4 linked regions of the Homo sapiens genome follow. The protein of the gene in region 4 purifies or fractionates together with the protein of the main gene of each other region. This does not show direct contact. Each region holds a gene or a part of one and is shown on either strand. Other genes may lie near its edges.

What was found.
Region 1: the proteins of KCNAB2 (region 4) and GAPVD1 purify together in Homo sapiens (affinity purification with mass spectrometry, with the first as the bait; one large-scale study listed by BioGRID). This does not show direct contact.
Region 2: the proteins of KCNAB2 (region 4) and ANKRD44 purify together in Homo sapiens (co-immunoprecipitation; one large-scale study listed by IntAct). This does not show direct contact.
Region 3: the proteins of KCNAB2 (region 4) and ATIC fractionate together in Homo sapiens (co-fractionation; one large-scale study listed by BioGRID). This does not show direct contact.

Annotation. Positions count from the first base shown.
Region 1 is NC_000009.12:125,295,887-125,303,325, reverse strand, and holds part of GAPVD1 (GTPase-activating protein and VPS9 domain-containing protein 1), read right to left. Parts: intron 5,898-7,439; exon of another isoform or gene 5,806-5,897; intron 4,438-5,805; exon of another isoform or gene 4,437-4,437; 5' UTR 4,405-4,436; coding exon 4,220-4,404; intron 1,344-4,219; coding exon 500-1,343; intron 1-499. UniProt on the Homo sapiens protein: Acts both as a GTPase-activating protein (GAP) and a guanine nucleotide exchange factor (GEF), and participates in various processes such as endocytosis, insulin receptor internalization or LC2A4/GLUT4 trafficking.
Region 2 is NC_000002.12:197,120,536-197,127,974, forward strand, and holds part of ANKRD44 (serine/threonine-protein phosphatase 6 regulatory ankyrin repeat subunit B), read right to left. Parts: intron 5,503-7,439; coding exon 5,302-5,502; intron 4,934-5,301; coding exon 4,846-4,933; intron 2,258-4,845; coding exon 2,115-2,257; intron 1,010-2,114; coding exon 797-1,009; intron 1-796. UniProt on the Homo sapiens protein: Putative regulatory subunit of protein phosphatase 6 (PP6) that may be involved in the recognition of phosphoprotein substrates.
Region 3 is NC_000002.12:215,316,594-215,324,032, reverse strand, and holds part of ATIC (bifunctional purine biosynthesis protein ATIC), read right to left. Parts: intron 5,877-7,439; coding exon 5,800-5,876; intron 4,369-5,799; coding exon 4,302-4,368; intron 1-4,301. UniProt on the Homo sapiens protein: Bifunctional enzyme that catalyzes the last two steps of purine biosynthesis.
Region 4 is NC_000001.11:6,096,195-6,103,926, reverse strand, and holds the end of KCNAB2 (voltage-gated potassium channel subunit beta-2), read right to left. Parts: intron 7,292-7,732; coding exon 7,171-7,291; intron 6,659-7,170; coding exon 6,570-6,658; coding exon of another isoform or gene 6,396-6,569; exon of another isoform or gene 6,372-6,395; intron 5,443-6,371; coding exon 5,353-5,442; 3' UTR 2,747-5,352; downstream 1-2,746.

The sequences.
Region 1 (7,439 bases), on a different chromosome or scaffold from region 4:
CACCCAAGGCCAGGAGTGGTGGCTCACGCCTGTAATCCCAGCACTTTGGGAAGCCGAGGTGGGCGGATCATCTGAGGTCAGGAGTTTAAGACCAGCCTGACCTAAATTTTAACCCCATGGCTAAAAATACAAAAATTAGCCAGGGCGGTGGTGTGCGCCTGTAATCCCAGCTACTCAGGAGGCTGAAGCAGGAGAATTGCTTGAACCCGGGAGGCGGAGGTTGCAGTGAGCTGAGATTGCGCCACTGCACTCCAGCCTGGGCAACAGAGTGAGACCCTGTCTCAAAAAACAGACAAAGACAAAATGTTTTGTGACCGCAATAATTTTAAATCCCAGTATTACTGCTTTTATTTAATAAGATGCAAATACTTAGGACTGGTTGAGAAAAAGTTGTAAGAATATACAAATACTGTCATCGTATTATTTGTTCCCACCCCCACAGCCCAATCAACTGAATTTTAAACTAAATGCCACGTTAATAATAATAGCAAAAGCATACCTGCATCAGATTAAATCGTGCTACTTCATTAATAGGAGCATCGGAAATTATTCCATATTGTTCTGGATTGACAACTGCAGGACAAATGAAGCAGGCCAACAGGAGATCAGTACACATTGCCCTGACCTCCCCAACTTCCAGCCTATCTACACAGGAGAGGGTTTTGTACATCTGAGACACGATCCACCTTAAACTATGTGGAAAACAATATGTGTTCTGTTTGAGATAACCAATAAATTTGTTCACCAAAGCCACTAGCTTTGCTTCATTGGACTCCACCATTTCTTGAACTTTTTGCCTGAATCTATCTGAGCCCTTCTCTCCAAAGAGTTTTTCCTGCTGAGATGGAGAGAACCTCTCAATTAGCTTGTTTGGATCTGTTTCCAGGTGATCTTCATCTTCAACAAGCAGTTGCATAATTGGCTCATGTAAAGTGGCTGTGAGGAAAAGTTTGGCAGAAAACAGTCCTTCAGAAAAAAGTTTAAATAAGATGCTGAAGGCACAAGTTCCTCTCCTCAAAAGTCGCCTAGGGTTGTCACTTTCTTTAAGTTCAAATTCAATCAAGTATCGCAAAACCTGAAGGAGGTAGCTTTCATCTTCTTGCATGATGCAATTGCCATACAGGGAGGTAAAAACTGTGTAAATAACACTTTGTGTGTTCTCCTGATTAAGTTTCTCTCCAGCAACCAAAGAGGAGGCAATAAGACGAGGATTTTCCCTCAATCGACTCAAGAATTCTCCATAAGCAGTCTCCTGAAATCCCAATTGCTTATACCCATCAACAAATTGTGTATCTTCCAAAATTTTGGCATGTTGGCAACATTCAGCAGGGGAAGCTTCAGCACTAAAAAAAAAAAAAAAAAGAGCAAACAAGCAAAATAATAGTATTAATAATAATAACACATATACTATATCCAAACATGGATATGTGAGTTGATTATGGTCCCAACAATGAGGTCACTCTGAATTGCTAAAATTTTTTAAACTAACAGCAACTCAATGAGTAAAGGACAACAAAACTAAAAAGTACAAAGGACAATTTCCTCTTATCAAATCAGAATCAATGAAAAGTATTGGGGCTGGGTGCGGTGGCTCAGACCTGTAATCCCAGCACTTTGTGAGGCCGAGGCGGGCAAATCACTTGAGGCCAGGAGGTCGAGACCAGCCTGGCCAACACGGCGAAACTCCCATTTCTTCTAAAAATACAAAAATTAGCCAGGCATGGTGGCAGGCACCTATAATCCCAGCTACTTGGAAAATTGAGGCAGGAGAATCACTTGAACCCAGAAGGTAGAGGTTGCAGTGAGCTGCAATCATGCCACCGCACTCCACCCTGGCCAACAAAGCAAGACTCTGTCTGGAAAAAAAAAAAGAAAGAAAGAAAGAAAATTATCAGTTTGTAGATCCTAAAAACTGTCCAGAGCTGCCCTCTTATGGATTAAATTAAAATTAGCTACAGGAAGGACACAGTGGCTCACACCTGTAATCCCAGACTTTGGGAGGCCAAGGTGGGAGGATCACTTGAGCCCAGGAGTTCAAGACCAGCCTGGAAAATATGGTGAAACCCCATCTCTACAAAAAAATATGAAAATTAGCTAGATGTGGTGGCGTGTGCCTGTAGGCCCAGCACTCAGGAGGCTGAGGTGGGAAAATCGCTTGAGCTCAGGAGCTTGAGACAGCAGTGACTCAAGATCATACCACTGCATTTCAGCCTGGGCGACACAGCCAGATCCTGTCTGAAAAAAAAAAAAATCAGCTACAGTTAAACTGCTTATGCTTATTTATGGACATAAGAAAGTTTACAAATACTCAAGTACTAAAAAATAATAAAAATGAAGTCGATATCAGCATATTGCTCAACCATTCTCAACAGCAACATGCCAGTATGTAATGACCTGCAGAATCACATCCTTTAACTAGGCTTTTTGCTTCTGGAAACAAATCCAAATAAAATAAGCCTAAAAGATGTGGGGAAAAAACCACAATGCCCACAACAGCACTGTTCTTTTTTTTTTTTAAACTCATTTTTATTGAGGTAAAATACAGTAAAGTGCACAAATGTCAAGTGTTCAGCTTGAACAATTTTTACACATACATGCACCCAGTAATCACCACTCAGATTAAGACATGGAACATTTTAAAAACCCAAGAACGCTTTCACGTGCCCTTTCCCAGTCAATACCACCCTCTCAAGCCCAAAAAGTAACCATTATTCTGATTTCTGTCATCAAAGATCAGTCCTGTCTCTTTTTGAACTTCATACAAATAGAATCATACAGTATGTATTCTTTTGCATCTGGCTTATATTCTCAACAGCACTGATATTCTTAGAGTTAAAAACTGTTCTTGGCCAGGCAGGGTGGCTCATACCTATAATCCCAGCACTTTGGGAGGCCGAGGGGGCAGACTGCGAGGTCAGAAGTTCAAGACCAGTCTGACCAACATGGTGAAACCCCGTCTCTACTAAAAATACAAAAATTAGCCAGGCATGGTGGCACAAGTCTGTAATCCCAGCTACTCAGGAGGCTGAGGCAGGAGAATCTCTTGAACCCAGGAGGCAGAGGTTGCAGTGAGCTGAGATTGTGCCACTGCACTCCAGCCTGGGGGACAGAGCGAGACTCCAACTCAAAAAAAAAAAAAAATAAAATAAATGTTCTTCGTAGGTATTAAGACAATAAAATGTGGTTTCTAAACCCGAAAAATAGCTATACAATATCAAAACATGGAAATACATATATATATATATATATATATATATATATATATATATATATATATATATATATATTTTTTTTTTTTTTTTCTTTTGAGACAGAGTCTCACTCTGTCACCCAGGCTAGAGTGCAGTGGTGCGATTTTGGCTCACTGCAACCTCCACCTCCCGGGTTCAAGCCATTCTCCTGCCTCAGCCTCCCGAGTAGCTGGGATTACAGGCGTATGCCACCATGCCCCGCTAATTTTTGTATTTTTAGTAGAGATGGGGTTTCATCATCTTGGCCTGGCTGGTCTTGAACTCCTGACCTCGTGATCCACCCACCTCGGCCTCCCAAAGTGCTAGGATTACAGGTGTCAGCCACCACACCCAGCTGGAAACCTATATATTAAATAATATTAGGAGAAAAGCAGAACAGATAATTTACTCTCTACAACAACATTTTTTTTTTCTTTTGAGGAGACAGAGTCTCGCTCTATGGCCCAGGCTGGAGTGCAGTGGCACAATCTCGGCCCACTGCAACCTCCACCTCCCGGGTTCAAGCAATTCTCTGCCTCAGCCTCCCGAGTAGCTGGGATTACAGGCGCCTACCACAATGCCCAGATAATTGTTGTATTTTTAGTAGAGACGGAGTTTCACCATCTTGGCCAGGCTGGTCTTAAACTCCTGCCCTCATGATCCACCCGCCTTGGCCTCCCAAAGTGCTGGGATTATAGGTGTGAGCCACCACGCCCAGCCAACAATAACATTTTATATAGACAAAGACACAAAACCAATTGGTGTGATATAAAATGTCAATGCTTAAGTTACAATTTTCTATAAAAGTGCCTAAGTTACTTAATAATCCAAATAAACTGTATTATAAGCAAAGACTCACCTTAACATTGATGTAAATTATCTTAAATAATGCACTTTGTTGGAAACAGATTCATTTATTTATAGTTACTAATTTATTTACAGAATCATAGTGGTTCACAAAACTTAAAACCTGAAAATCATCTCTTTACCTGGTTATGATAAGCCGATCCAAATTGATTCTCTGTTGCTTCGCAATCCATGCTGTACGATACAACTTTTCAGCTGTCTTAAGTACATCTGCATTGAGCCTCTGAATGAGCTGTTTCTCAGAGTTTACATATAAGCGTTCCTGCTTGAGGTGATGAGCCAGAGTATGAATATCTAGTTTCACCATCTTCAATGTGGGAAAGGCTCAAAGGCTGATCACTAAGAGTAAAAAGATAAAGATTTAAAGTTTATGTATGTCACTTAAGTTCTTTTCTAAAATCAAAAGGGACAGGAGAATACTTTAAGAATTCAGTTACATTTGGGCAGGCGCGGTGGCTCATGCCTATAATCCCAGCACTTTGGGAGGCCAAGGCGGGCGGATTACAAGATCAAGAGATCGAGACCACCCTGGCCAACATGGTGAAACCCCTGTCTCTACTAAAACACAAAAAATTAGCCAGGTGCGGTGGGGCGCGCCTGTAGTCCCGGCTACTCAGAAGGCTGAGGCAGGGGGATTCCTTGAACCCGGGAGACAGAGGTTGCAGTGAGCTGAGATTGCATCACTGCACCCCAGCCTGATAACAGAGCAAGAATCGTTCTCAAAAAAAAAAAAAAAAAAAAAAAAAATTAGGTTACATTTGATGCCACTTTTAACTCTAATTTTCAAATAATCTCTATCTTTTTATTACAGAAGTATTACAGGTTCAGCATAGAAAAATTGGTAAATACAGATAAGCAAAAAGAAAAAAAAGCTCACTGCTAAGGCCACCGCTTAGAGACAGGTGCTGTAAACCCTGTGTATATCCTCAAATACAATGTCTATTTGTTAACCCCAGAGTTATCCTTGACTGTGCTCTTTCTAATCACAATCAAAATATCCTGTTGATTCTATCTTCAAAATATATTTAAAATCTGACTACTTATTCCCCCCTCCATTGCTAATCACATCAATTCTCACTAGGAGGTGCATAATCACCACATCCTAAGTGATCTCGCTGCTTCCTTTCTTGTACTTCTAGAGTCTGTTCTCTACATAGCATAGTGAATTAAAAAGTCAGATCACAGCCGGGCGCGGTGGCTCACGCATGTAATCCCAGCACTTTGGGAGGCCAAGGCAGGTGGATCACCTGAGGTCAGGAGTTCGAGACCAGCCTGGTTAACATGATGAAACCCCGTTTCTACTAAAAATACAAAAATTAGTTGGGTGTGGTGGTGTACACCTGTAGTCCTAGCTACTCGGGAGGCTGAGGCAGGAGAATTGTTTGAACCTGGTAGGCGGAGGTTGCAGTGAGGTGAGATCATGCCACTGCACTCCAGCCTGGGCAATAGAGTGAGACTCTATCTCAAAAAACAAAACAAAACAAAACTTAAGTCAGATCACTTCATTCCCCTACTGGAAACCATCCACAGGCTTTATTTCATGATAGAATGAAATCTGAAGGTCCTATATGATCTACCCCTGGCTACTTCTCCAATTTCCTCTCCTACAATCCCACCCTAGTTCACACAGCTCCAGAACATCTGCCTTCTTGCTGTTCCTTGAACAGGCCAAGCATGTCCCTCTCTCAAAGTGTCCACATTTGCTGACCTCTCTGTCTGGAAGGTTATCCAGTATCTTCATTCCATTCAGATCTCTCCACTCAAACGTGTATTTAGAAAGGCCTTCTCAGACAACTCCTTCTAAAATAGAAAATATAACTTCCTAATCCCTCTTCTGGCCTTTTAAAAAAGCACTGCCCCTATCTAGCATTATATTACAGATATCTACCTGCATGTTAATCGTGCTTATTGTGAGGCTTCCCCACTAGAAGGTAAGTGACAGCAGGGCCAAGCCTTGTTTGCTTTGTTCATTCACAGCTGTAATTTCAGGGACTAGGAGACGGCCTAGTTCACAGCAGGAGTTGAATAAATATTTGCCAAAGGAATAAATGAAATCTCACTACTCTTATTTATCTAGCAGCTAAACAAACTGATACAAATAGCACACATATTTTAAAGCATTATTATTTAAGCTATGCCCTTGAATCTAGAATTTGTGCCAGATCACAAATGTTAAATCAACAACAGAAATACCTGTGGCACAGATAACAAAACATAATATTGTGTGTCTGGGCAGCAGACAGTCATCAAGTTAGCAAAAAATTTCTTGGGTTGGGCACGGTGGCTCACACCTGTAATCCTAGCACTCTGGGAGGCCAAGGCAGGTGGCTCACTTGAGGTCAGGAGTTTGAGACCAGCCTGGCCAACATGGTGAGACCCTGTCTCTACTAAAAATACAAAAATTCACCAGGCGTGGTGGCAGGTGGCTGCAATCCCAGCTACTCAGGAGGCTGAGACAGGAGAAACTTGAACCCAGGAGGCAGAGGTTGCAGTGAGCTGAAATCGCACCACTGCACTCCAGCATGGGCAACAGAACGAGACTGTCTCCAAAAAAATAGGAGAAAAAAAAAAAAAAGGCCAGGCACAGTGGCTCACACCTGTAATCCCAGCACTTTGGGAGGCCAAGGCAAGGGGATCACCTGAGATCAGGAGTTCAAGACCAGCCTGACCATCATGGAGAAACCTGGTCTCTACCAAAAACACAAAATTAGCCGGGCATGGTGGCACATGCCTGTAATCCCAGTTACTCAGGAGACTGAGGCAAGAGCATTGCTTGAACCCAGGAGGCAGAGGTTGCAGTGAGCTGAGATCGCGCCACTGCACTCCAGTCTGGTGACAGAGTAAGACTCCATCTCAAAAAAAAAAAAAAACCTAAGAACTATATGTGGCCGGGTGTGGTGGCTCACACCTGTAATCCCAGCACTTTGGGAGGCTGAGGCAGAGAATTGCTTGAACCCGGGAGGTGGAGGTTGCAGTGGGCCGAGATTGTGCCACTGCACTCCAGCCTGGGCAACAAAGCAAGACTCTCTCTCAAAAAAAAAAAAAAAGGAAGAAAGAAAGAAAGTGTTAGGATGTCTGCAACTTGTACATGGTTCAGCAAAAACATTAAGAGAATTTTTTTAAATATAGCTAAATATAAACTGTTGAACTGAGGTGGTAGGTATATAATGATCGCTGTGCTATCTTTCAATGGTTTTTGTATGTTAGAAATTTTTCATAATTAAAAAATGGGGTAAAATACTTTAGAAATTCTCAAACTGTGCCTTTCTTGCTGCTTAATTCAATGTAATTGAACAAATATATGACTGAGTTTCGCTGGAGCCTAGCCAAATCGCCTAATCT
Region 2 (7,439 bases), on a different chromosome or scaffold from region 4:
AGCTACTGGGGAGGCTGAGGCAGGAGAATCGCTTGAACCTGGGAGGCAGAGGTTGCAGTAAGCTGAGATCACGCCATTGCATTCCAGCCTGGGTGACAAGAGCAAAACTCCATCTCAAAAAAAAAAAGAAAGAAAAGAAAGAAGGTATCTGAGAAGCTCTAAACCCACACTGGAGTTGGAAACAGGCCTACAATCATTATTAGGCCTTCCTTTGAATTCTTAGCAACACTGCCCTATCAGCTCAACATTCACCTCAGTATTAGCTTCTGGGCAAGTCAATATCCTAGAGATCCAGTATTTGTCCTGACACATTCACTAAGCTAACAAGAACACACGGCTGGAGCCTTGGTACCTTTCAGCTGATACCACCACTCCTGAAGAAAAATAACACAACTTTTTTTTTTTTGTTTTTGAGACGGAGTCTTGCTCTGTTGCCCAGGTTAGAGTGCAGTTGCACAATCTCAGCTCACTGCAACCTCTGTCTCCCGGGTTTAAGCAATTCTCTGCCTCAGCCTCCCGAGTAGCTGAGATTGCAGGCACCCGCCACCACGCCTGGCTAATTTTTGCATTTTTAGTAGAGATGGTGTTTCACCATCTTCGTCAGGCTGGTCTTGAACTCCTAACCTCATGATCTACCTGCCTCAGCCTCCAGACAACTTTTCTTATAGCCTCCAAATCCAGGACAAGGCTGTGAGGTTCCAACTCACTAAAACATGGCATAATTTGCAGCAGTTGATTTTGCTCAAACAGAAGCTCAATGCAAAGGCATTCAACACAGAGACTAAGAGTGTCATACCTGAATGTTAACATCTGCCCCGTTGTTTACTAACAATTCAAGACACAAAGCACCATGAGTGGAGGCAGCAGCAAAATGCAAAGGGGTGAACCCATTATTGTTTGGCTGGTTCACGTTAGCACCGTAGTCAATCAACTCGTTAACCACAGCATCCTGTCCATTGTAGCAGGCGATGTGAAGCGCTGTATTTCCATAGACATTGATTTCATCAATCTGCAAAAGAGTCCAACACAGGGTGATTAAAGTCATTAGAGCCAGTTTACTCCATTTTCCACAAAAAGCATAACGGCTGTGGCTAGAGAAAGGAAATAGCCATCCGCCAATATAATTGTTCAGAGCTTACTCTTGCCCCAGTGTGGTCATCTTGGGAATGCTTGTCACCCCATGGTAAAGATCAGCAAAAAGTCAATGTGGCAAAAAATGAACTGGAGACAGAGAAGTTTCATCCTGGGGAGAGGTATTTTTCAGCTAACAAAGGAATAAAAGGTGAAGGGCAAAGCTGCTTTCAAAACACCAAAAGAGAAGTAAATCAGAGGAGAATGAAAAGAGTCCCACACTCTAGGATTGGGGCACAGAAAACCTCAAGAAATGGTGGGGGATGGCAGAGGAAGTGGCTGCGGAGATGGCAGGGGAGGTGGCTGTGGAGTCTAAACATGGAAGGCGGGTCAGAATCCACTCTCTGTTTTGCTCTGGAGTCCGACACCTCACCAGGTTGCATTTTAGTAGCAGAGCAGTGGTGCCGTCAGGAGGTGTGTTTCGTCCACGGCTCCCTATTGCTTTCTGAGACCTGCCCTGGATGCCTGGTTTCCTCATTATGGTTTTCCATAATGATGCAACTTGGTTTTCCTTTCTTGGGGGACAGGATGTTCCAGCCTCACCACTGCTCCTGTTCTACCAGCAGAAAGAGAAGGCAGCAGTCTGCCTTTTCCAGCTCAAGAGTAGACATTGCTGCTGTTTGTCTCTGCCATTTATTCATTCATTTCTGCTGTAAGTCATGACTTAGAAGGCTACATTTGGAAGGTGGGATGCAGAACCTTGGCCAGTCTTTAAGAACAACTGGTTAATATATATTACATAGAATCTTTATGTCTATATATTTATCTATGTTGATATAGAAAGTTATTCAGTTTCCAGTTTTCCTCTGCTTAGTGTATGCCCCCACTGCCCTTCATCAGTTGCCCACAAAAACTCAAAAAGACAGGATGCTAGAAAACAATTCCCCTGCCCTTGAATTAAAGTGCAAACAGGATTTAACTTTAGAATAACAGAAATCTTACAAATACACTGGCCATGCATTGATGCATTCATCATAGCTCACCTCCACCCCCAGGTTCAGGAGATGCTTGACAACATTAATCTGTCCATTGGAGGCTGCAGCATGCAGAGGGGTATAACCCTTCTTATCCTTACAGGTCACTTCTGCGCCATGGTTAATGAGCAATGCTACAACATCCAAGTGGCCTTTACAAACAAAGCAGCAGAAAACATCGTTAACCTTTATAGGACAATTTGCTGATTCATTTCACCTAAATTATCAACTATTAGCTTTCATCGCCACCAGTATTTTGCTGAGTTATTTGTAAAAAGCTGGTTCATGGCAACTATTCAACAAATATTTATTGAGTACCTCCTATAGTCAGGCATAATGTAAAAGCTGTGGGGAGAAAAAAGATGATTCATATGTGAGCCTTCTCTTCAAGGAGATCTAGGTGATGCTTGTTACCACACTAATGAATAATGGTGAGGTTTTGCCAAGATATTAGTAGAGAGCCTTTAAAAATGTTGTATTAAAATGAAAGCAATGCTTTTGAAAACAATTGCCATTCCTCACTGAAAAGTTTAACAATGACAATTCAGTTAGGAAAAACTGATAAAAGAAAAAAAAACAATTAATGAGAATGACCCCAGATTATTGTTTAATCATATAAAATTACTGCTGCTCAACTGTATTTGGACCCACAAAAATGGCAATTACATATGCCTCAACTTAAAAGTATCCTCATGAATTAGAGGCCAAACAGAAAACCCTTCTAGTTTTAGCTCCTGTTAGCATTTTTTTCTACAATATTTTACTCTGTTCCATAATTCACTATATATAGAATAAGCCTGTACAACATGGTGAAACCCCATCTCTACTAAAAATACAAAACTTAGTTGGGCATGGTGGCACATGCCTGTAGTCCCAGCTGCTCAGGAGGCTGAGGCATGAGAATCACTTGAACCTGGGAGGCAGAGGCTGCAGTGAGCCGACATCACACCACTGCACTCCTGCCTGGGCAACAGAGCGAGACCTTGTCTCAAAAAATAAATAAATAAATAAACAAAGAAACAAGCATATTTGACCTTTATTTCGGGACTGAAGATTGTTCAATGCTTCAGGATCATTGCTCTAAATATGGCTGAAAATTGAAGGGTAGAAGACAAGTACTGACTCCAGGACTTTGTGTGTGTGTTGGGGTGGGGGGAAAGTATTGGCTTGTTTTATTAAAATTTGACTCTTTTCTCTCCAAGACTTTATATAGAAAAAATTTTTTTCGATTATTAGTGCTGCTATCTTAAGCTATTTGCCCTGGTTTTGCCTATTATTCCTATTTGTATCCTGACAGCACACAAAACAATGATTTGATTTCTTTAGAGTCATTTATCCAAATGCTTTAACTGTATATACATCAGCAGAGAGCAATCGTGAAACTTTGCATTCTTTGAGTCCTATCCACACTAGCTTAGTGTGTGTTCGGCCTACACAGCTGTCTCCCACAGTCACTGGCTCCAGTCCTGCAGGTGCCACGCAGTCATTTCATATGCTTCAGCCAACTCAAAAATCCATGTCAACTTTTTTTTTTAAATGCTAATGCTTGTAAAAGTTTAAGATTCTGTTTTTTTAAGCCCAAGGATTCACTCAGACCCACCTTTAGCCACATAATTTATTTCATCCCTGCCCCAACCTACTCTTTCTCCCTACAATTAATGTTAATTTTTAAAGTGATGATAAAAGGCACATATGCTTGTTAAAAAGGATTCAGAAAGGCAAAAAGGTATTAAAAGAAAACCAAAATCATCCACAATCATAAATCCCCAAAGACAATCAATTAAAATTTTAGCATATAATATTTTCCAAGTTTGTTATTGTACAGATTTTTCAATGAAAATGAGAATTATATTATTTATACTGTTTTATAATATGCTTTCATTTAACATATCACAGACTCTGTGTTAATAAACACTCATGGACTCATCACTGTAGTTACTGCAAAGTGTCCCCTTGTGTGGATCTTCCAGAATTTACCAAAACAATCTCCTGTGGATGGGCATTCAGGTTGTTTACAACTTGGTGCTGATAGAATCCTGTCTATTTTTCTAATGGCAGGATGTTCTCCAATTAGAAACACAAAGGGAATATCTTAGTTCTTCATTTCCCACAAGTCTACACTTAGAATAAACTCTGTGAGATCTCTCATTTGTCAGTGGGATTTGCCAACAAAAGTGAAAAGGAAAAACGTAGAAATGTGAACTCTCCCAAGCGGGTAGAAATGAGGGCTGCAGGCTTCAGTTTTGTCGTCAGTGGACTATCAGGATAATCACCAGCGCCTCTGGTGCCCTCCATCTATAAAATAGCCAGAGGTTTGTCTTTTCTTCCTTTCTTTTTGTTTCTTTCAAAAATATTTATAAATTTAAAAAGACGAATGGAATTTGTGTCCTTGCTTTCCGAGCCAGTGCTCTTTCTTTTTAAAACACCTTATTTTACTGCCATGACAAGTTAAAATAAGCACAATCTGTGCAGCTTTCCAATCCAGACTGAAGCACATTCAAAGAGGCCCAAGCCATGATTCATTCCTCCTCTTCTTTGTAGGATAAATAAATATCTGACAAAGCAACTGCCCGACTGGAGTGCACTATGCATGCCAGTAAAACCAACCAAATCTTCATTCAATTGCAACCCAAGCTTGAAAAGAAGTCAGACTGGAGAAAACCTACATGGTCAATGAGAGACCCATGGCTTATTTAGTTAAGGTTATCTGTACTTTGCTTTCCATGCATGGAATCCTTACCCATGTATGCTGCCCAGTGCAGAGCACGCCGGTCCTTCTTGTCAAATGCATTGATATTTGCCCCTTTGGCCAAGAGTAAATTGACCATCTGAAAGATAACCAACAATGAAATCAAGCATACATTCTGTAATGGTGAGGCCTCCTCACTGCCTGCAGATGATCTGAGCCAAATTAACATGAAATCTAAAGGCAGGTCAGAGATCTGGAGTTCTGACAAAGTAGAAATATGATGTCAGAGCAGGACATGTGTCATGTGTGTCAGAGGAAAAGACTGAAGTGACAGCCTACTTTTTCAATTCATTGTGGCTCTAAAGTTGAGAATGATATAGATGCTGAAGGTTTGGTGTACAAATATTTTCATCACATTCTTTAAAATCTCAGCAAGAAGATCAGTTTCCACTTGTGGCTGAAAGTCCTGGAGGGAGCGTTCCAATTCTGAATGATAAAAATACCCACCTCCACGTGGCCGTTCAGAGCCGCATGGTGCAAGGCTGTGCGCCCCCCTCGGTCGGAGACATTGACACTGCTCAGCAGGGGAATGATCACTTCTGCACATTTGACAGCCTTGTTGGCTGCTGCCACATGAAGAGGGGTCTGCCAGTTCTTGTCCCTTGCATTGACATCAGCTGAGTGCTTAATCAAAACCTGTACTGCTTCCTACAACAAAAGCAGAGTTTGCAGAGGTCACTGACAGACGTTCAATCAATACTTACTGGTGTAAGATGCTTCACCAAACCCTGGAACTATGGAGAGAAAGGCTCCCCAACCCTACAGGCTGGCTCCAGACAAGCCAGGTAATATTTGGTAAAGATCAAAAGAGTGGCAAAGATAAAGACAGAATCACTTTACCTTTCTTTGTCAAGCCAAGAGCCCCGGCACATCTCTAAAATCAAATAAACCTTCTAAGTATATGATGATGTCCTTACAATGTAGAAGGCACTCTTAGGCCAAATGAGAACACCCATGTGCAAGTGTGCATACCAGGGTAAAATAACCATAGACAAAAAGACCTCAGACATTCTTGGATCAGTTTATAAATCTTTGGTTCTCTCTGCCAACATCTTAACCCTCAGCATCGTGTGATCAATAAGTGGTCAAGACGGGAAGTAACATCTCTGTTACCATCTCAACTTAAAGCTATGAGTTGTTTCCATCTTTTCCATGTTATAATGGGTCACTTCTTTTGCCATTGTTGAGTTCCTTCACCTTCATTGGGCCTCCCACATTTTTTCTTCTATTGGCCCAGTCAGCTCCCTAACCTCTTGATCTATGACTTTCAACCCTGGCTATGCAATGGAGTCATCCATGCAGCTCTTAAAAGCACAGAAGCCAAGCATGGGCAACATAACAAAACCCCATCTCTAACGAAGAAAAAAAAAATCGACAAACATATATACAGGTGCAAAAGTAATTGCATTGCTTTTAATGGCAAAAACCGCAATTACTTTTGCACCAACCGGGAGTGGTGTTGTGGACCTCTCTAAATCCTAGCTACTCAGGCGGCTGAAGTGGGAGCATCACTTGAGCTCAGGAGTTTGACGTGATCACAATGAGCTGTGATCATGACACTGCACTCCGGCCTGGGCAACAGAGCAAGACCCTGTCTCAAAAAAAAAAATACAGTAGTTTAAAATGATTATGGAATTAAATTCACAGACATATGGAATATTAGAAATGGAGAAAGCCCTAAGGTTCATCTGAGCTGACCCCTTCATTTCATAGGCAGCTTTATTTTATAGGCAAGATGACAGAAGTCCAGGGCAATGACCTGTCAGCCTGGCTGACTTATGGGCTCTTGCATTTTCTAACAGGCCATTTTCTACTAGGCTTACTCAGTGAGTAGTCTCAGTCAAGCATCCTGACATAAATAGATTCAACAGTTAATTCTCCTTAGTTATTTACATTTTTAAATCCTAAAGTTTTAGTCTGCTACACTGGCTTAATACATATAATAGAAATTTAATATAATATTTTGGCAAAAACAAAGCTTTGATTAAAAACAGATAACTACCTTTTTAAAAACTGCATTTCTCTTTTAAAAGTTTTAAGCTTGGAAGCTCTTTAACTTGGTTTTACAAGGGAGTAATTTGATGGCTATTTAGGGAATTAATTTTTTTTTAATTAAAGAAGTCTGCCTTCTCCTGTATCACATATTGGCTAAAAATTAATACCCAGGAGCTTGCTCTGGCAGAAATATACAAGGTAAAAAAGAAACTAATGTGGGGGAAGGGAAGCTGAACACTTCCTGAATCAAGAAAAGATTATTTTTCTTCTGTTAAATTTTTTTTAATCAACTTTTATTTTAAGTTCCAGGGTACATGTGCAGAATGTACAGGTTATATAGGTAAATGCATGTATGGTGGTTTGCTGCACAGATCAACCCATTGCCTAGGTATTAAGTCCAGCATCTGTTAGCTATTCTTCCTGGTGCTCTCCCTCCCTTCTCCCCACTGACAGGCCCCAGTGTGTGTCGTTCCTTCTCACATGTCCCTCTGTTCTCATCGTTCAGCTCCCACTTGTAAGTGAGGACGTGCGGTGTTTGGTTTTCTGTTTCTGAGTTAGTTTGCTAAGGACAACAGCTTCCAGCTCCATTC
Region 3 (7,439 bases), on a different chromosome or scaffold from region 4:
CCCAGCACTTTGGGAGGCTCAGGAGGATGGATCAACTGAGGTTGGAAGTTCAAGACCAGCCTGACCAACATGGAGAAACCCCATCTCTACTAAAAATACAAAATTAGCCAGGCAAGGTGGCACATGCCTGTAACCCCAGGCTGAAGCAAGATAATCACTTAAACCCGGGAGGCGGAGGTCACAGTGAGCCAAGATCACGCAACTGCACTCCGCCTTGGGCAACAAGAGCAAAACGCCATCTTAAAAAAAAGAAACAAAACAATAATGTCCATTCTTACCACTTCTACTGAACACTGTACTAGAAGTTCTAGCCAGAGCAATTAGCAAAGAAAAGAAAATAAAAGGCATCAGGACTGGAAAGAAAGCAGTGAAGTTATATCTATTTGCAGATGATACCACCTAGTATACAGAAAATCCCAAATTCACAAAAATAACCTTTTAGCACTAATAAATGAGTTCAGCAAAGCCGCAGGATATATGATCAATATATAAAAATCAATTGTATTAAAATATACATTAGCAGTGAATGAGAAAAAAATTAAGAAAACAATTCTACTTCACAAGACAATGTTAAAGAAATTAAAGACACCCCATGTTCACAGACTGGAAGATTTAATATTCTTAGGATGGTAACATTTCCCAAATTGATCTACAGATTCAACACAATACCTATGAAAATTCCAACTGCGTTGTTTTGCAGAAATGGACAAGCTGATTCTAAAAATCATGTGGAAATGCAAGGGACTCTGAAGAGTCAAAGTCATCTTGAATAAAAAAAACGAAGTTGGGGCCGGGCGCAGTGGCTCACGCCTGTAATCCTAGCACTTTGGGAGGCCGAGGCGGGCGGATCACGAGGTCAGGAGATCGAGACCATCCTGGCGAACACGGTGAAACCCTGTCTCTACTAAAAATACAAAAAAATTAGCTGCGCATGGTAGCGGGCGCCTATAGTCCCAGCTACTCGGGAGGCTGAGGCAGGAGAAGGGCGTGAACCCGGGAGGCAGAGCTTGCAGTGAGCCAAGATCGCGCCACTGCACTCCAGCCTGGGCAACAGAGCCAGACTCCGTCTCAAAAACAAAACAAAACAAAACAAACAAACAAACAAAAAACAGAAAAATGAAGTTGGAGGACTCACACTTGCTGATTTCAAAATTTGTTACCAGCCTATAGTAATAGTGTAGTACTGGCATAACAGCAGGCACATGGACCAAGGGTGCCAAGACCATTCGATTGGGCAAAGAACAGTCTTTTCAACAAATGATGCTGAGACAACTAGACAGCCACATACAAAATAAAATAAGACTTCTATTTCATGTCTGTATATGAAAATTAACTTAAAATGAACCAAAGACTTAAGTATAAGAGCTAACACTAAAATAACTCTTAAAAGAAATGTACACACGCCGGGTGCGGTGGCTCACACTTGTAATCCCAGCACTTTGGGAGACCGAGGCAGGTGGATCACCTGAGGTCAGGAGTTCAAGACCAGCCTGGCCAACATGGAGAAACCCCGTCTCTACTAAAAACACAAAAAAATTAGCTGGGCGTGGTGGCGGGCACCTGTAATCACAGCTACTTGCGAGGCTGAGGCATGAGAATCGCTTGAACCCAGGAGGCGAAGGTTGCAGTGAGCCGAGATCACGCCACTGCACTCCAGCCTGGGCAACAAGAGCGAAACTCCATCTCAAAAAAAAAAAAAAAAAGAAAGAAAATATACACAAAAATCTTCATCACTGAGGATTAGGCAATGGTTTCTTAGACATGACACCATTAACACAAGCAACAAAAGAAAAAATAAATTCAACATCATCAAAATTAAAAACTTTTGTGGGCCGGGCATGGTGGCTCAAGCCTGTAATCCCAGCACTTTGGGAGGCCAAGGCGGGCAGATAACCCGAGGTCAGGAATTCAAGACCAACCTGGCCAACATAGTGAAACCCTATCTCTATTAAAAATCCAAAAAAATTAGCCAAGTGTGGTGGCGGGCACCTGTAACCCCAGCTACTCATGAGACTGAGGCAGAATCGCTTGAATCCGGGAGGTGGAGGTTGCAGTGAGCCAAGATGACGCCACTGTGCTCCAGCCTGGGCGAGAGTAAGACTCCGTCTCAAAAAAAAGAAAAAACTTGTGATGATCAAAGGAAACCATCAAGAAAGGCTAACACAATCCATAGAATGAGAGGAAATAAACTTACAACTCAATAATAAACAGATAAATACCTCAACTAAAAATGGACAAGAGGTCTCAACAGACATTTCTCCAAAGGAGGTAAACAACTGGCTAGGAAGCACATCCAACGGTGTTCCACATTATTTGGAAAGCAAATTATAACCACAATGAGATGCCACTTCAGAACCCCTAGAATGACTAGAATCAAAAAGACAGATAGTAACGTTGATGAGGATGTGGAGAAACTGGAGCCCCATCCAGCACACTGCTGCTGGAAATGTAAAATGGTGCAGCACTCTGAAATACAGGGTCGCAGTTCCTCAAAAGCTAAACATAGTTACCATATGACCAAGGAATTCCACTCCTAGGTATATACCCCAATGAAACGAATGTGTATGTCCACACAAAAACTTATACACAAATATTTATAGCTGCATTATTCATAATATTCAAAAAGTAGAAACAACCCAAATGTCCATCAACAAATGAACTGATAAACAACAGGGTATGACCACACAATGGATTATTTTTCAGCACTAAAAACGAAATGAACTATTGATACTATGCTATAACATGGATAAACCTTGAAAACATGCTAAGTGAAAGAAGCCAGGAACAAAAAAACCATATATTGTTAGATTCTATTTATATGAAAATGTCCACTACAGGCAAATCAGACACGTAACAATTGGTGGTTGCCGAGGCTGGAGGACGTTGGGGAAATGGAGAATAAATGCGTATGGGTATAGGGTTTAGGGTGGGGGTGATGAATATGTTTTAATATTGGATGTGGCAATTAATATGGTTTGGATGTGTGTCCTCTCCAAATCTCATTTTGCAATGTGATCCCCAATGTTGGAGGTGGGGCCTGGTGGGAGATGATTGGGTCACGGGGGAGATCCCTTATGAATGGCTTGGTGCCCTCCCCATAATGAGTCCTCACTCTGAGTTCATGTAGAGCTGGTTGTTTAACAGAGCCGGGCAGGCCGGGCGTGGTGGCTCACACCTAATCCCAGCACTTTGGGAGGCCGGGGTGGGTGCATCATTTGAGGTCAGGAGTTCCAAGAGCAGCCTGACCAACATGGTGAAACCCCATCTCTACTAAAAATAGTAAAAATGAGTTGGGCGTGGTGACAAACGCCTGTAATCTCAGCTACTCAGGAGGCTGAGGCAGGAGAATCACTTGAACACAGGAGGCAGAGGTTGCAGTGAGCCAAGGTCATGCCACTGAACTCCAACCTGAGCAACAGAGCGAGACCCTGTCTCAAAATAAAATTAAATTAAATTAAGAATAAAAGTTAAAAAGTAAAAGAGCTGGGCAACTCCTCCTCTCCCTCTCTCTTGCTTCTTCTCTCATGGGATATGCCAGCTCCCCCTCTGCTTTCCACTGTGATTATAAACTTCCTGAGGCCCTCACCAGAAGTTGATGCTGGCACCACACTTCTTGTACTGTCTATAGAATCACGAGCCAAAATAAACCTGTTTTCATAAATTACCCAGCTTCTAGTATTCCTTTATAGCAATGCAGAACAGACTAACACAGTAATGGTTGCACAACTTCTGTGAACCACTGATTTGTACATTTTAAATTGGTGAGTTGTATGGTATGTGGATTAGATCTCAATAAAGCTGTTACGTATATTTAAGAGAAACAGCCAGTATCTTTATGCAAATAACTCAGTTAGTTGTGCAAGTTGATAATTCCTAATATGAAAACCTGAAATCTGAAATGCTCCAAAATCTGAAACTTTTTGAGCGTCAACATGACACTTGGAGGAAATGCTCACTGAAGCATTTCGGATTTCTGAGGGACGCTCAACTGGCATGTTACCTGCAAATATTCCAAAATCTGAAGAAATCTGAAATCCAAGACACTTCTGGGTCCCAAGCATTTCAGATAAGGGATACTCAACCTATACATACTAAGATTTAGATTGTAACTTCCTAAAAAACTTCAGTATGTATTTTGGTATATAAATCTGGCCAAACCAAAATGCTTACACACATACAAAGTCACACAGAAGGTACGCAGTAAAGGTTTATAGTGAGTAAGAAAACACAGGGACACCAGGTTTGGCATAGTCTTTGTCGTTGGTTCGTAATGTGTTAAAAGTTTAATTTCAGGTTTTTACCTTATAAGATTGAAATCAAGTCTGGCCATGTCAGCATTATCTTCTGGAATATTACGAGCTAGGATTCCTAATTTAAAAAAGTTAAACAAAGTCATTAGCTTCAAAAAACAAGTCAGATTAAGGAATGTCTTTCAACATAGTGTCTTCAATCAAATTAAATCCCATTGATTAAAAAAAAAATTTATTTTTTTGAGATGGTCTCACTCTATCGCCCAGGCTGGATTGTAGTGGCGTAATCACAACTCACTATAGCCCTGACCTCCAGGGCTCAAGTGATCCTCCTACCTCAGCCTCCCAAGTAGCTGGGACTACAGGAATGCATCACCACACCCAGCTGGTCTTTTCAATTTTTTAAAGAGAAGGGGGGTGTTGCCATCTTGCCCAGGGTGATCTTAAACTCCTGGGCTCAAGCGGTTCTCCTGTCTCAGCTCTCCAAGTGCTGGGACTACAGGCAAGAGCCACCATGCCCAGCATAATATTCTTAATTAAAGAATATCAAACATGTAGTTGGGGAGTTATCAAACAAAAAAATTAGGATTAACAGATATATCTGGCTGGCCACAGTGGCTCATGTCTGTAATACCAGCACTTTGGGAGGCTAAGGTGGGGGATCGCTTGAGCCCAGGTGTTCGAGACCAGCCTGGGCAACAAGGTGAGACCCCGTCTCTATAAAAAATACAAAAATTAGCTGGGTGTGGTGGCACATGCCTATAGTCCCAGCTACTTGGGAGGCTGAGGTGGGAGAACTGCTTGAGCCTGGGAAGCAGACAGAGGCTGCAGCGAGCCATGATCGCACCACTGCACTCCAGCCTGGGCAAGAGTATAATCCTGTCTCAAAAAAAAAAAAGAGAGATATATTTAAAAATCTTTTTCTTCAGTTCTTGATCCCAGTTTCTTGAGCAATAAAATGTAAAAAAGGTAAAAGGAATTTTACAAAACTGTTGCTAGTTCCAGAACAGTCTATGCGTTTCTGTAAGTCAATGGCTTGTCTGATGATCTGTAGCCATTCAGCTTTATTCACCAAATTGTACCACAACTGACAAACTAGGAGGATACCAGTTTCTTGCCGTTTCGGTTTATATACAATTCATTCTTAGGTGAACGAACAAATGTAAAGCACTTTGAAAAAAAAAATTCCTTTGCAAGTCAGTTACGCTGTGATGCTTTCTTCTAAGTTTGAACTATTTTAAAAGTATTTTCATACGATGAAATCTAAATATCTTCAGCAACTTGAGCAGGAAACACCAGACTCTAAATTAGGTATCAGGTCAGGACTAATAGCAAGCAGAGGAAAACAATCTGAATTCATCAAGTAGTAAGACAAGCTGGATTTTAAACCAGTTCTAACGTATTATGAAATCTGGCAGCAACTTCATAACATTAACTTTATATGTAAATTTCTCTTGAGCCTTTTTCTTCCTTTATTTTAGGACGCTATCAACTAAAATATTCCTGGAAACCACTGACTGTTTTTACATTAAAGATACCAACCACTTACCAGCATGGACTGCAGGATGCAAAGTTTTCACACGTCCCCCCAACATTTCAGGAAATCCCGTCAACTCAGAGACATCTCTGAAAAACAGATAAACAGAATGGTACTACTGGTGTGGCTGAATTGTAATTTTCACTATTCAAAGCATCTACTGTTTTCATTTCAAGAGATTTTGAGCCTGAATTCAACGTGAAAATTCTGATTTTTTAAAGTATTTCACTATATTTTATTTCTTAAGTAAAATTCTATTTACTTCCGAAAAAAAGTTTATTTAATTTATTTCCTAACTGTTGTGTATGTTCAGGGATAATTGGTAACTACTACAGCACTGGTTTTATAATTTTCAGAGCATTTAGAAACTGAATCATAAGCCATACTCATTAAATATTACTAAGACATACAACTGAGAATTTGGCAGTATGTAACAAAAAGCATTAAAAATATCCTTGGCCGGGCACGGTGGCTCATGGCTGTAAACCCAGCACTTTGGAAGGCTGAGGCAGGTGGATCACCTGAGGAGGGGAGTTTGAGACCAGCCTGGCCAACATGATGAAACCCCAGCTCTACTAAAAAAATACAAAAAATTAGCCGAGCGTGATGGCGGGCACCTGTAATCCCAGCTACTGGGGAGGCTGAGGCAGGAGAATCACTTGAACCCAAGAGTTGGAGGTCGCAGTGAGCCGAGATCATGCCACTGCACTCCAGCCTGGGCGACAGAGCAAGACTCCATCTCAAAAAACAACAACAACAACACATGAAGATGGCATATCAAGTGAGTGAAGACATAAAAGACTGTTTAATAAAGTGGTGTTGCTATTGGAATAACGGGTTAAACCCAAACAAAAATATATTCCTTATGAATCAAAGGTTTAGCATTTAAAAAATCATGCATGTAGCAAAATTAAATATGTGAGGAATGCTTTCCAAGTTTTAAACAAAAGATTGAGAGTTCTGATTACAGAAATGTTAAATAAAAAGTTTTACATGGGAAAAAAAAGTAAACTAGAAAAAATAATCACACAATGTGACAAAGGGTCAAGTGAAGGACAGTAAATATTAATCCATATCACAAAGCAGACCCCTAGAAAGTCGTAACCACGAACACTCTGGCAGACTTTATAAGTTGTAATGGTGTGTAAAAATGCCCACAATATATAAGAAAAAATAAAGCAGGGGCCAGGTGGGGTGGCTCACACCTGTAATCCCAGCACTTTGGGAGGCCAAGGCGAATGGATCACCTGAGGTAAGGGAGTTCCAGACCAGCCTGACCAACATGGTGAAACCCCGCCTCTACTAAAAATACAAAATTAGCCAGGCATGGTGGGGCATGCCTATAATCCCAGCTACTTGGGAGGCTGAGGCAGGAGAATCGCTTGAACCCGGGAGGCGGAGGTTGCAGTGAGCCAAGATTGTGCCACTGCATTTCAACCTGGGCAACAACAGCAAAACTCCGTCTCAAAAAATAAATAAATACATAAAAATAAATAAAGCAGGAAGCAAAACTGCATCTATCTTCTGTGTAAGCTATGAAATAAAGTACATGCTTATAAAAATGCTTGAAGAAAAATATACTAGCATGTTAAGAATTACAATCCATTTTTACTACCTTCTTTATAGTTGTCCATATTTTCGAATTTTCTACA
Region 4 (7,732 bases):
TGGGACTGAGGGGGCCAGGGCTGGGTCAGGATTCACCAGCTTGTGTTGCAGACACTGGAGCGATTGCCTGGCCCTCCCTAAGCCCTATATGCCTCACTCATAATGAGGCTGTCTCTGAACCCCGGAGGGCGGGACCTACAAGTCCTTCCTCTTGGCGCATTCCCACACTCCAGTCTGGATCCAGGTCTGCAAGGCCAGCCCGACCCTGACACTGCACGTGGGCGTAGTGGGGAGCACCCTGGAGTGGAGATGATTGTCAGCGGGCTCACATGTTATGGTTCATCCACATGCGTGTTGTGTGCTCTGCGGTGCCTCCTGGCAAAGGGTCCTGGCTCGGGTCAGAAGCTCACTCCCGTGCCCTCGTCCCCAAACAAGCAGTGGCAAGCACTGGGGTTGGCCCTCGTTGGGAGCAGTGCCCACCTTCCTTGGCCCACAGCAGATAGGTCCCGAGCAGCAGGACTGGAGGCCTGTGGCGGTCAGGGCAGGGGTCTGTGTCTCCACCCCAAGGGCTGATGGTCCCTCCCCTGTGCGCCTTCCTCTCAGGCAGGCTTGCTCTGTCCCTTCCTCTCTGCTTCCCTCCCAGGCCTCGCCAGGGCTCCCTTCTCCTCTGCCTGGTTAGACTCGGGCACCCAGGAAAGCCTGGCCAGGGCTCCTTTGGGCCTGGGCCCCCTGCACTGCCTGGTCCAGAAGGGGTGGTGCTGTCCGTGGCCAGCACCCCGGGGCCCGGGAGGGGTGGGCTACTAGAGTCAGAGCGGGTTTGGGGCTGACCAGTTTGGGAGAGGAGAAAAGATCTGAGAATGTCCTTCTTGGTTTGTCAGTCATCTCTGCCAAAAGTGGTGATGGTGGTGTCCGTATGTTTGGCGTCTTTGGGCTGGGTTTGGTTTTTGCTGCTGGTAGAATCAGGGTCCTCGGGCATGAACGCGAGCCCAAAGTGCCAGTCTGCGATTGGAAATTTCCAGCCACTTTAAGCCAGTGCTGAGTAGGGCTTCTGCAGAGCCATGTTTGAGCCAAGGTCTTGGAAGGCATTGCCCCATGGGCTCAGGTGACTCGGGGTGGAGTGAGCACGTCTGCAGGGCCCTCTCATACACGCCTGAGGCAGAAGCAGCGTCCCCCGTGAAAGCCACCTTCCGAAGCTCCTGCGTTTTTTGCAAACTTGGCTTCCCCCAGGGGCAGGCTGGACTTTCCCTGCCCCCTATGATTGAAGTCCTCCTGCTTTTGGGGGCTGCCTTCCCAGAGTCCCCCGGGTGCTCCCCTGCCGAGGTCAGGAGCTGACCAAGCCTTGGCCCGGTGACACCTGCAGCCCTCACTCCTGTCATCCCAGGACACTTGAGGCCCAAGGAGGTGGAGTGGAGAGTGGGCTCGGGTACATGGGAGCCAGAAGCCAGATGGACTTGGTCAAGTGTCGGTCACTTGGAGCCTCCAGTGTGCGTCAGGGTCTGTGGGCAGGGGACAGGGCGTGGGTGGGGGCCGAGGCTGGCACGCCCCTCTGCCCTCACCGTCTTGGTGACCTGGCCTCGGCCCCTCCCCCAAGTCTCTTCTGTGCAAGGCCCGCCTCGGCCTCGGCAGCTGGTTCCTGTCCTGTTTTCTGTGTCTGAAAGTTTACAGGTTGTGGTGCATCAGCCCAAACTCACTGGCGTTGTGTTTTTTTTTTCTTTAATTTTCAGATTTTTTTTTTAAACAAAGTATTTTTTTAGGTGCGATAACCCAGAAAGGGCCCGTTGGGTGTGTGTGTGTGTCCTGAACTCCTCAAGCAGCGATTGGAGCCCAAGCACCCCTGGAGAGGAAGGGAGGGTCCCCACTGGCCCGTGGGGTCTGAGTTCAGGGGTGTGGAGGGAGCAGACTCCACCGGCCCAGGCCCAGCTAAGAGGGGGCCGACCCCTTTCCCCAGGCACAGCCCCAGGCTGGCAAAGGGAGGGCCCTGGGCTGGGTGCAAGGCGCGCCAGGAGTCCCAGCCAGGGTGGCCCCGGCGGGGGCGGGTCCAGCTTTGGAAGCCAGGCTCCCCTGTGAGCCGTGGCTTGTCTGGTCTTCGCCCACGGGAGGCTGGACAGAGGCTGTAGCCAACACAATCACCTTTACTTTGTACTCTGTGTGTATGTTTTGGTTTTCTGTGTTTTAATAAATCCTTTGGGAAAGGATTTAATCAGAGGCTTTTTCTTTTTAAGATTCAAGATTTAGAATGGGGGTGGGGGCTGGGGCCAGGGAGGAGTGGTGGGGGGTGGGGGCGTGTCCGGAAGCCTTCTCTTGCCTGGGATGGTCATTTCACGGGTGCAGGGGCTCACTGGGAAGGAGGGGAGCCCGAAACAGGGGTGTGCTGGGGTGAGGCCCCTCTCACCTGTACCCCAAACACATACCATGAGAGCTTCCCCAGGCCTGGACCTCTGTCCTTATGAGAACAGCAGCCAGCCAGGTCCCCAGAGGGACAGCAGCCTCCCAGCAAGCAGCTTTGGGCCCTCAGAGTTGGTGAAAGAGAATGTGTGTGTTGGGGGCGGCAGGGGAGGCACGCACCCTCCCTTGGCTGAATCGCTTGGGAGAGATGGGGGACAGGTCTTCTGACCACCCTGTCCCCATTCTCTGTCCCCGCTCTCTCTCCACGGGCCCTTTCCAACCCACCTGCCCTTGGCTGCAGGCTCCGGTTTGGGGGATGCCCCAGGCCCTGCTGCTGGCAGCCTTTTCCTCCCCTCCCGTGTCACCCTGGCCCAGCCCTGACCCTGAGGAAATGAGAGGAGCAAAAAGTCACAGAGACCGATGGGTTTGGGCTTTATTTATTTTGTCATTCCATAAATACGGTGGCTGTGTCGCGGTCTGAGTCTCGTTTGGAAGCTCGAGGCATAGGACAGTCTCTGCCTGGGTAGGGAATGCAGTTAGCTGAGGAACCACGGTAGGTTTAAAAAAAAAGACTCGGGGAGAGAAAAAGCACATTATTTACATGACTGGACAAGGACAGAAGGTGGGAGGAAGCCCCTGTCACTCCTTGGGACCTGGGATCTGAGCACAAAGCTGAGTGGGAAACAGTGGGGGCTCCGAAGCGTCCAGCAGGGCCAGCGCCCTCCTTTCTAGACCCCGACTGCCCTTGGTCTTCTGCCCTTTCTTGGATGGTCCTACCCAATACCTCCTCCCGAGAGGGGGGACCTGGCCCTAGGAGGCAGAGCCCCCTCACATCCTCCCTGTAGATGGGTGTGGAGCAAGCAGGACATCCAGGAACCAGGTCGTGGAAAGAGCTGCGCCAGAGGCTGACTGCATCCTGACACTGGGGCCTGGCCTCTCTGTGTTTGGCAAACCCGCAGCCTTTGGGGGCTCAGCTGCCCCAGGTGTGCCTCGCATTAAGCAGCAGTGCCCACCCTGGGCACCACCTCGCGCTGGTCCCTCTTCCAACAGTGGGTGGGGCTGGGTGGCAGTGGGGATGGGGCCAGCCACCCTCCCTGATGGCGAGGGTGGGCCACCTGCCCTCTGGCACCATTGGCCACTGCAGGACCCTGTCCGGGAAGGAAGCAGGCGACCCCCACCTGGGCCCAGGGCCATAGGCTGGGACCTCCGTTGGGAAGGGACTTCCCCACCCCACACTCACAGGGCTGCTTCTGGTGAAGCAGGCAGCAGGACTGAGTGGAGACCCCCGGGACTTGGTCTATGAGGAGGGGCAAGGGTTCTAGGCGCCAGGGGCAGCATGAAGGGGGGTCGGTAATAGCAGAAGCTGATCCCCCTCCTCCCCTCGCCCCAGCCTCTCCCCGCTGGCCTTTCTGACTTTCACAGTTTCCCAGGCCTTGGCCCGGCCAGGACTGGACAGCAGGCTCCCGCAGGACGGCAGGGTGGAGCCTTCTGGAATAGTGGCTCCTCCAGGGGCAAAGCGGGAACAGAGGTGCCTGCACTGAGGGTGCGCCCTGGGGGCAGGAGACACAGGCTTCCCTATGGAGCTAGCTGGCGAGGGGTGGGGGTGGCTTCAGTGGAGCCCTGCCCCGCGTGGTCTGCAAAGCCTGGGTACTGCTTGGGACACAGGCCTGGGCCTGTAGGTGGCACCCCGCACCTGCAGACTTACTGGCATCCCTTGCCCTCCGGCCCAAGCTGCACGGGGGCGTCACTCTGGCCTGTCCTGCCCTCTCTCCCCTCTGCCCAGCCTGTCCCAGGTGTCAGGCAGTGGGAGGGGCTAACCAGCCCTGCCCGTCTTTCCAGGGAGAGGTTCCCTGAGGTCTTTTCCTACATTGTGGGGGTGCTGTGGGGGTGCAGCCCCCAAGTCATGGGCACAGAAAACCCCAAAGACCCTTCCTTACTGAAAGGGTCCAAGCATGCGCTCCACAAAACCCAAGCCCACCAGCTCGGTGCAGAGCAGCGGCCTGGGCTGGCGGGCGGCTTTAGAGAAAGTCTACAGGGGCCGAGAGGAGTGCATCCTTGTGCACAGGGCCGGCCCCTGCTGCCACTTGCCGTGGTGTGGCCAGCAGCCACCGTGCAGCTAGGAGCACATGACCACAGGGCCTTCCGGGGCCAGGACAGAGGGGTGGCCAGACAGAGGGGCCTGCCCCACTGGGACCCCTCCCAAGCGCTCCGGGCCTCACTGGCATGAGGCTCATCATTGGTGTGTAGGAGGAAGACGGTGGGAGGCTGAGCTAGAAATCACACCGCTACGCTTTTTGTGGCTCCCAAACTGCAGAGTCAATCCCCCTGGGGTCCCTGCCCCTGCCAGCAAGGGTGGGGGTGGGTGGGGGTCAAGGGCCAGCTCGAGCTTGGTAGGCATGGCCCCTGCCGGGACCCAGTGGGGCAGGTTGGAGCAGAAAAGGATGGGAGAGGAATCTGTGGTCAGGCCCCAGATTCCTGGAGCCCTTGGAAAGTGGGAGGTGGAGGAAGACCCCCAGTGGGGAGGCCCTGCCCCAGCAACCAAGGCCCTGGCAGAAGGGGCCCCTCGATGGGCCAGACCCCTTTCCCCTCTCCCCCTACACCAAGTGGGGATTCTCAGCAGAGGAGAGGCTGGCCCTGCCCGCCCCAAGGACCCAACCAGGCCTTGGCCTGGCCTTGACTTTGGGAACCTTGGAAATCTTTGGGCCTTGACTTTGGGAATCTTGGCTGTGGCTGGGAGAAAGCTGGGTGGTCTTGGAGGATGAGCAGAGGTGACAGGCTTGGGTGGGACCGTTTGAACATCCTTCCTAACCAGTGCCTTCCCCGGCACAGACTGGACTTCGACATTGTCCGGCGAAGCAGTGGGTGGTGTCTGGCAGCGACTTGGGAGATCATTTCCCGATGACATCACAGTGTGGTGTTTTCTCTTGGATGCAAACCACACTCTTCACTTGGCTTCAAAACAGCTTAAGCGAGCGAACAGAGACTAGGAGGGAACGGAAACTGTCCGAGCAGGCGGGCGGGGGCGGCTTAGGATCTGTAGTCCTTTTTGCTGTAGGGTTTATTGCCCAAAATACTATCAATCTCGTGGATAATGGAAGATGACAGTTTCGGAAGGACCTGCGTGCAAGAACAACAACAAATCAGAATCCCACCAACAAGACGGGCCTGGCCTGGGGAGGAGGTGGGGCCAGGCTCTTCCAGATGGTCGGCTGGCCAGGCCCGGGTTGCCCCATCACATCTGGGCTCCATCTGAGGCAGATGGAGGCCACGCTGCTTTTGTGTTTCAGAAGGTTTGGGGCAGAGAGGAAGCATGCCTGGGTCTGTGCACTCCCTCTCAAATGTCAAGGTGCCCTAGAACCTTCCTGAAGGGTGGTGGCAGCAGTGACATAAAATGGAAACTCCAGGCCAAATGCTGGACTTCCATGTCCGTGACTGCTTTTTCCAGCTGCGCCTGCCTCAGCATACAGCACCGCCACCCTTCCGGGTGACACACCCGGGGACCGACTTCCACCTCGCCTTCTCACCCCCACATCCAGTTTGTCAGCCAGTCCCGGGGGCCCCACCTTCCCAAACATCCAGGATCCAACCACCACTCCCGTCTCGGACCCGCAGCTGCCACTTCCCACCAGGGCTCTCTGCTTCGACTTTTGCTTCCCAAAGCCTCCCCGATGGAGCAGCCGGAGAGCAGCCTCCCTTTCCAGGCTGAGCTGCAGCTCGCCCTCCTCTGCCCACAATTTTGCCACGGCTCCCGTCTCACTCAGAAGTCCCTGGAGGTGTTTCGTGCCTCTCAGGATCTGCCCCTCTGCTCCAGGCCTTTTTGGGCCTTTGCATCAACTCTTCCTGCTGGTGGAAGGTTCTTCCCGCAGGCATTTGCGTGACTTACTCCGCATCTCTCAAGACTGCTCAAGCACCACCTTCTCAACAAGCCCACCTGACAGGCCCCCTTGAACCTGAGTCTGCAGCGCCACCGTCCCTGGCCCCAGCTCCCTCCCTTTATCTCTGGCTTCTCTCCTACAGCGCTCGTCCACCCTGACACACATTCTAACCTCCTTGTTTCGTGCAGTTAGTGTTCATGTCTGTTCCTGCTGGAAAGCAAGCTCTCCAGGAGCACAACTCTGATGGTTCACGGGCGCATCCTGAGTGCCTAGAACAGAGCCTGGCACGCAGGACGAGCCTGGGAGGATGCACTGGACGGGGCTCGGGCTGGGATGGGCCCTCTGCCCAGCAGGGCCTCTCACTCTTACCTGTATTGCCCCAATGTTCTCCATGAGCTGGTCCGCATTGGAGGCCCCCAGGAGCACGGAGCTGACTCCCTCATTCCTCAGGCACCAGGCTGTGGCGGCGAGACCCAAGGTGAGGGAGAAACACCCACCACAGGGGCCCCTGATGGGTCTGCCTTGCCTCTGACTGGGCCGAGAGACCCAGCATCTTGGTCTGGGGGTCTGAGGGGGTCTAGGAAGCCCTGCAGTGCTGGGCACGGGCTTTGTCTAAGAGGTGGCTGGAGGAGGCATGGGGGAGCCCGCTGCTCCCTGATGGAGAGGTGGCCCAAGTGCTTAGCGCTCCCCATCCTCTTCCCATGAAAGCGGGAGCCCCATTACCTATGGCTGGCAGATGGAGGGGGTGGCCCAGGTCCTCAGGGACTCCTGACATCCCCCTAGAGGCATGGGGTCCCAACCATGCCCCTTAGAGCCCGATTACCCGAGGCTGGCTGGGGGATGATGTCCAGGGATCCCTTCCCTCTCTCCCCGGAGACACTGGCCCCATGGCAACCCCACCCTGTTACCTACGGCCAGCTGGGGCAGGTTCTCCCCAGGGGCACTGGCCCCATGGCGACCCCACCGTTACCTATGGCCAGCTGGGGCAGGGTGCAGCCCAGGCGCTCGGCGATGGCCTGCAGCTCCTTCAGCTTGGCTTGCTGGCGCCGGCCCTCCTCACTGAGGATCTTGTCCTTCAGCCACTGGTAGCCCTGGTTGCGGGGGAGGGGAGCAGCACAGCTACAGATGAGAGCAGGTCACCTGGACCCCCACGTGCAGGGGGCCGATGGGCTCATTCCTTCTGGACCCTTCTCCCTCATAGGGGCTCTTCTCATCTTGAAGCCAGGGCAGTGCCCCTGCCCCAGGCCTCTCAAGTAGGGGAGAGTGGGCAGTGGGCCGGGCACGGGCTGGTGGATGAGCGGGGCCTGTCCAGGCTCTGAAGTGCAAAGACTGTGGTGCTGGCCCAACCCCAAGTCAGGACAAGGAGGCGAGGTGCTGGCCTTCCTTCTCTTAGGAAACTTGGCAGCCTGGGGTCTCGGCTGCCACCCGTGGCCCAGAAGAACCTCCTGGCCCTAGGGGAGTGCTCTCTCCCCTGGCCATCCCCCCCAGAGGATTGCAGGGCCTCCTGGAGGGGGGCCCTGACCTTGCCATGG